2 linked regions of the Homo sapiens genome follow. The protein of the gene in region 1 purifies or fractionates together with the protein of each later gene. This does not show direct contact. Each region holds a gene or a part of one and is shown in the gene's direction. Other genes may lie near its edges.

What was found. Proteins that work in one complex are often made in the same cells at the same time.
Region 2: the proteins of KIAA1143 (region 1) and GPATCH1 purify together in Homo sapiens (affinity purification with mass spectrometry; 2 studies listed by BioGRID and IntAct, with this or other methods). This does not show direct contact.

Annotation. Positions count from the first base shown.
Region 1 is NC_000003.12:44,755,022-44,758,673, reverse strand, and holds part of KIAA1143 (uncharacterized protein KIAA1143), read left to right. Parts: intron 1-3,652.
Region 2 is NC_000019.10:33,087,580-33,091,231, forward strand, and holds part of GPATCH1 (G patch domain-containing protein 1), read left to right. Parts: intron 1-554; coding exon 555-689; intron 690-3,200; coding exon 3,201-3,286; intron 3,287-3,652.

The DNA of each region.
Region 1 (3,652 bases):
GATGACTTCGAGAGATTCAGGCCTTCAGTGGAGGAAGTAATTGCAGGTGTGGTAGAACAAGCAAAAGAACTAGAATTAGAAGTAGAGCCTGAAAATGTGACTAAGTTGTTGCAGTCTCATAAAAATTGAACAGATGAGTTGCTTCTTATTGATGAGCAAAAAAAGTGGTTTATTGAGATGGAATCTACTTCTGGTGAAGATGCTGTGAACATTGTTGAAATGTCAATAAAGGATTTAGAATAAACTTACTTGGTAAAGCAGCAGCAGGTTTAAGAGGACTGATTCCAATTTTGAAAGGAGTTCAGCTGTGGGTAAAATGCTATGAAACAGCATTGCAGCATCACAAAAGAGAAATCTTTTGTGAAAGGAAGACTCAATGCAGCAAACTTCATCGTCTTATTTTTAAAAATTGCCACAGCCACCCCGCCTTTCAGCAACCACCACCCTCATCAGTCAACATCCATCAGCATCAAGGGCAGACCCTTCACTGGCAAAAAGATTAGGACTCACTGAAGGCTCAGATGATTTTTAATGTTTTTAGCAATAAAGTATTTTTAAATTAAGGTAGGTACATCTTCCAGACTCCTGTTAATGTTGATATTTTGCCTCCTCCCATGAATCGTGTACTTAATGGGATCTAGATTTTTTTAGACATAATGATATTGCATACTTAATACTAACTGTAGTTAGTGTATAGTGTGAACATAACTTTTATGTGAACTGGGAAACCAGAAAATTTGTGTGACAATTTATTTTGATACTTGCTTTGTTGTGGTGGTCTGGAACCAAATCTGCGGTATCTTCAAGGTATGCCAGTAGAATGAGTATGTGCTAACCCCATGCACTGTCGCAGGCTCTGAAAGGACGAAGAGATGGATCTCCAAAATGCCATGTTCTTTAACACTTCCTGCCCTATTTTCACAAGTTACCATCTCTCCGAAACCCTTCAAAGCTCTCCAAACAGTTACTCTTTCTGTTTTTCTCTTTACCTTATCCATATCTTATCTATAACATTCATTTTATATTGCAACTACTTGCTTTCCTGTTTATCTTCACCACTAGATTGAACTCTTTAAGTTAGTATCTTAATCCTTCCGTATTTTCCCAGCACCTAGCACAGTGCCTGGCACGAAGTAGTGGGTAACAGTTGTATTTGTTGGTGACTGTGCTGTTATCAGGTTAGACTTCGTGGAGGAGGGATATTTAGATAGACTCTCGAGCATGGTTAGGTCAGCAGGTAGAGATGAAGAGAATGGCATGGGTAAAGGTGTAGAGATTTGAGAGTCATGGACTGTATGTAGAAGTGTTAGAGGGGCTAGTGGAGGTGAGGCCATGTGGACTATTTAGTAAGCAACAGGGAGCCATTTTTTTCTTAGAGGTAACACAGGGAATGACTGATCCCCATGACTAAAAATAGGGATGATGACAAAGAGGGTAAGGTTTGAGAAAAGGGACATAGATTGAGCGATGAGGAGAAGATGAGACCCAGCTTTACCTTGCTTGAGGTCCTGGTGATGACCCTGTATGCACAGTTGACAGCTTGAAGGTTACAGCTTGGAATGCTATCTTAAGAGAACTTCGGGAATCCTTTCCAAGTAATATCAGTGATTTTCGCTTATTTATGTACTCAAGGGAATTTCCCTTAGAGAAGTACGCCATGTTTCAGTGTGAGAACCACTTCATTTTTAATCAGTTTGGCAATATACAGTATTCCCCCATTATGTTCCAAGACCCCCAGTGGATAATACTGAATTCTATATATACTATGTTTTTTCCCATACATATATACCTATGATGAAGTTTACTATATAAATTAGGAATATCAGCAGATTAGTAACTAATAATAGAACAATCATAACAATATACTCTAGTAAAAGTTGTGTGAATTTGCTTGTTTGCTTGCTGTCTCTAAATATTTTATTGTACTGTACTCACCCTTCTTTCATACTACAGTTGACCACAGGTAACTGAAATTGTGGAACATGAAATTGAGGATAAGGAGGGGACTACTGCAGTCAGGATTTTAGTCATCTATTAACAAAAAGAAATGAGTTTCATGGGAAATCATTCCATAATTAAGCTAAATCATCCTATTCACTTTTATTTTTTTTGAGGCGGAGTCTTTCTCTGTTGCTTAGGCTGAAATGCAGTGACTCGATCTCAGCTCACTGCAACCTCCACCTTTTGGGTTCAAGCAATTCTCCTGCCTCAGCCACCCAAGTAGGTGGGATTACAGGTGCCCACCACCACACCGAGGTAATTTCTGTATTTTTAGTAGAGACGGGGGGTTTCACCATGTTTGCCAGGCTAGTCTTGAACTGCTGACCTCAAGTGATCTGCCTGCCTAGGCCTCCCAGAGTGCTGGGATTACAGGCATGAGCCACTGCGCCTGGCCCTATTCACTTTCTTGAGAGTTAATTCAGAAATGTCTCTGAACAGTCATCAGTGGCTACTGCCACTGTCCTTAGACTATTTCTCTTGTTTTCCAGGCAGTCACATTTAAAAAGAAAAAAAGAGAAGAGAGTCAGAATTAATTATTCTCAATTTAACAAACAAAAGGAATGATTTTATTTCACTTTCCCATATTTTTGGCTAAAAATACTTACTACCTATTTGTGGTCATTTATTGGAGACTTTCAGAGAAAAATTGGCAGAAACTGATGAATAATCAGTGAACTAACATAGATACCATTAAAGAGAATGTACTTGTGCAGTGATAGAGCAGACTTGAGAACTTGAGTTATAGTTAAAATGGCACAAGCAACTTGCCAGGGCTTCATGTAGTTCATCATTTTCCATTCTGTTGGTCATTCATGAGTAGATCAACAAATATTTCTGGAAGTCCCTGCTGTTTTCCAGGCTTTGTGCCTCTCCAGAAGGCACTTGCCCAGTGGAAACCAGCAGAAAAACATTGGTACCACAGTGCAATACATGCTACCTATGAGCTATGCACAGTGTAAGAAACAAGAGAAGGTGAGATTTAGGTAAGCACTTCTAGAGGCTCTAAATCTGGAAGGCAGCTTGAGTAGGAGTTGCTCAGGGGCTGTGGGGCTTAATAAGCCGTAGGAATTTGTTCAGAGACAGGGGAAGCAAAGGAGCTAATATATTTATAAATCTCCAAGTACTCAAACCTTGCCATGCCAGAGTCTAGATGCCATGAGAGAGTGGTACAGGATAAAGCTGTGGTTATGGGCTGAGGCTAATTCTTGCAGGGCTTTGTCGCCTTGTTTGGGAGACCAGGAAGTCTCTATGAGAAGTGGAGTAATGAGTGATTGTGTTTGAATAACATATGAAAACATATTTTGGTATGCATACCTTTCAACCCAACAGTTCCACCTCTAGTGAACTGTTAACATTAAAAGTTCTTGCATACAAGTTCCCAAAAGTGAGCAAAAATGGGTGCATGAGGTTTTTTCATAGTAGAAAAAAATCTGGAAACGAGCAAAATTTGTATTTACAAGATGCTGGTCAAATAAATCTTGAGGTGACCATATATGTAATTAAATGCAAGGCAGTGATTTTTTAAAAATCAGATAATTCTATATCTTAAAGTACTGTACAAAGATATTTTTTGAGTTAAGTTGTGGGAGTGGGGCTCTTACGGTGTCTCACATTTCAAAAATCTGAATCAACTGGCAAAATATTACCATCT
Region 2 (3,652 bases), on another chromosome or scaffold:
TGGAAGTGTATCTCTCCTTGCCAAGTGCCACCCCAGCTTCTGCGCCCTTCATTTGAAGCCAGGAGATTTCAGTTTCATCTGTCGGAACTCTCCTGACATTATAATTTTTTTTTTTTTTTTTGGGGGAGAAGTCTCGCTGTGTCTCCCATGCTGGAGTGCAGTGGTGTGATCTCGGCTCACTGCAACCTCCACCTCTCGGGTTCAAGCGATTCTCCTGCCTCAGCCTCCTAAGTAGCTGGGATTACAGACGTCTGCCACCACGCCCGGTTAATTTTTGTATTTGTTAGTAGAGCCGGGATTTTGCCATGTTGACCAGGTTTTGTAATGGAATTTAGTGGGAAAAGAGGGCAATCATTATTACATAAGCTTATAAAATATATTGTTTTCTAGGCTATATAAAGCAGTAAAGTCTAGGAATAACAATTTAAATGATTATATTTGAATTATAAGAAGTAAACAATTTATGATATTTAAAAAGTGACATTTTCCCTAAATTTGAACCGACCATCTCCTCTCTTTTTCATTTAAAAAACTTTTTTTTTTTTTTTTTTTAGGTGAAAGACCAAAGAAACCAATCCCTCTTCAGGATCAGACTGTCAGAGATGAAAAAGGAAGGTATAAACGATTCCACGGGGCCTTTAGTGGAGGTTTCTCTGCTGGATACTTCAATACTGTTGGCTCAAAAGAAGGTATCATTTTCCTAATTGTAGCTATTATACCATTAAAGCAAATGATCAAAATATTGATTCTCCCTCACCCTTGCTTTTTTTTTTTTTAATTTTGAGACAAGAGTCTCGCTCTGTCGCCCAGGCTGGAGTGCTGTTGTGTGATCTTGGCTTACTGCAACCTCCGCCTCCTGGATTAAGCGATTCTCCTGCCTCAGCCTTCCAATTAGCTGGGATAACAGGCGCATGCCACTATGCCTGGCTAATTTAAAAAAAAATACTTTTAGTAGAGACAGGAGTTTCACCATGTTGGCCAGGCTGGTCTCAAAGTCTTGACCTTGAGTGATCTGCCCACCTTGGCCTCCAAAAGTGCTGGGATTGCAGGTGTGAGCCACTGCACCCGGCCACCTTTGCTTTTTTTTTTTTTTTTGCGATGGAGTCTTGCACTGTTGCCCAGGCTGGAGGGCAGTGGTGTGATCTTGGCTCACTGCAACCTCCGCCTCCCGGGTTCAAGCGATTCTCCTGCCTCAGCCTCCCAAGTAGGTGGAATTACAGGCGCCTGCCACCATGCCCAGCTAATTTTTTTTGTGTTTATAGAGACAGGGTTTCACTATGTTGGCCAGTGTGGTCTCTAACTCCTGGCCTCAAGTGATCCGCCTGTCTTGGCCTCCCAAAGTGCTGGGATTACAGGTGTGAGCCACTGCGCTCAGCTTTCTCTGAACATACACTGTAACCTCTTGTGTTCTTTGGATATTTGGATGTTTCCAGAGTCAACTTGTATCTTGTTCATTGATTGCAACCTTATGGTTAAAGAGTTTTCTTTCACTTTGTAAAAAAATGCATACCTCCTAATCAGATGATTAAATGATAATAATGACTTTGGTTTTTATTGTGTCTTGCCATTCACGAAATACTCTTAAACAGAGTCTTTCAGTTAATCATTGACTGTCTCTCGTGACTGAGTGAGTGAGGAGGGCAGGTGTCACAGGGATCTTGCAGATGATGCCACCAAGGGTCAGAGAGGTTAAGGAGCCAGCATGGCGTTAGTGCTGAGGGAAGAGTCACCAGGTGCCCTCTTCAGACACTGGGGACCACAGCAAGACTGGCTCCTCAGTGCTCTCTACCTGGGGAAAAGTCAGTTAAATCTTTTATGTTATGTACTTTTATAAATGCCAAGTTGTTTAAAGTATTGTATGTTTTAAGATATATTAATCTAGAAGCATTTTTTTGAACTGGAAGAAATGGCTTTCTATATCTCAGTTATGAATGGAAGATGAACTGATTTTATTATATGTGCTGCCATAGTGAGCACGGAAGATGAACTGATTAATTCACATAGCAATTATCAAGAAAAAGATGGGCTAGATCTTTTATAATTTTTTTTTTTTTTTCCTGAGATGTAGTCTCACTCTGTCGCCCAGGCTGGAGTGCAATGGCATGACCTCGGCTCACTTCAACCTCCGCCTCCTGGGTTCAAGCAATTCTCCTGCCTCAGCCTCCCGAGTAGCTAGGACTACAGGTGCCCGCCACCACACCCGGCTGATTTTTGTATTTTAGTAGAGATGGGGTTTCACCATGTTGTTCAGGCTGGTCTCGAACTCCTGACCTCAAGTGTTCCACCCGCCTCAGCTTCCCCAAGTGCTGGGATTACAGGCGTGAGCCACCATGCCCGGCCTTACCATTTTATTTAATTAATTGATTTATTTTTTGAGACAGGGTCTCACTCTGTCGCCCAGGCTTTAGTGCAGTGGTGCACCTACTGAGAGTAGACCTTCCCCAGATGCCTCAGCTCACAGGGCCCTTGGAGAGAATCAGGAAGGAGGTGCAACCCTCTTAGAGAAAACTAAACAACTTTATGTGCAGAGGTTACAGACATATGTGACCTCCAGAGCATTCCCTGTTTGTGGACGTGGCACATGCTCGGTAACCGTGGTCAGGGAACAAGGCCATTGGTTACAGGATTCCAGTGTCTGTTGAAACTGGGGGACTGGCAGAGCCGCTGCCCTTGGACCTGCCAGGTTGAGTCTTTGGTCAGGGTACTGTGAATGTTGCCTGGATTCCTTCTGTTACTCTCTCTTTATCCACTCTGACTGATTAAAACACCTTGACATCATATCTTTACACTTGATCTTAGCCAAAAGGCCTAGAAGCGATGACATCATTTCTTTAGATATGTTAATATGCCAGTGGAGGTTGCTGGTCTCACGTCCTGCATTTTAAGGTGACCTTGCATCTGTCAGCTCAGATCTGCTTGTGTTCATTTCACAGTTTAACTTTCAATGTGTAATTCTATATCTCTTGGTTTCACTTTCTTATGGGGAAACCTTAATGTATCCACTAAGTTTTACATCAGGGGATACAGGGATTAATAAGAAATTTATGTGGAATAATTACGTCTATATAAGCACTGAGATGGGAAGTAGCTAAGAGTTTATAGTTATTGGGAATTTCAAGTCCATACATGTTATTTAATCATTTACTCATAGACCCAAATACTCTCTAGGATTGTAAAGTTCTAAACTCTTTTTTTTTCAGGATGGACACCCTCTACCTTTGTGTCTTCACGACAGAACAGAGCAGACAAATCTGTTCTTGGTCCTGAAGATTTTATGGATGAAGAGGTGCGTGTGCAAAACTTTAATTGCCAATTAGCTGGTGGGACAGGTCTAGTTGGTTGCTGTAACTGCCTTCTCTCTCCCCAGAAGGTCCAATGTACGATTTCCTCTTTGTTTGTAAGGCTTTATCTTTTAGGTATTTGATGTGCAGTGTCCTGTACATCAGTAGAGTCTTGTTCATTGGAGGAGCATTTTATACTGGGGCCAATTTCTAAAATCAAGAGTGTAAGGGGAAAGTCATATACAGGCAATTTACTTGAAAAGCCTCGTGGCTGGGTGCGGTGGCTCACGCCTGTAATCCCAGCACTTTGGGAGGCCGAGACAGGCGGATCACGAGGTCAGGAGATCAAGACCATCCTGGCTAACACGGTG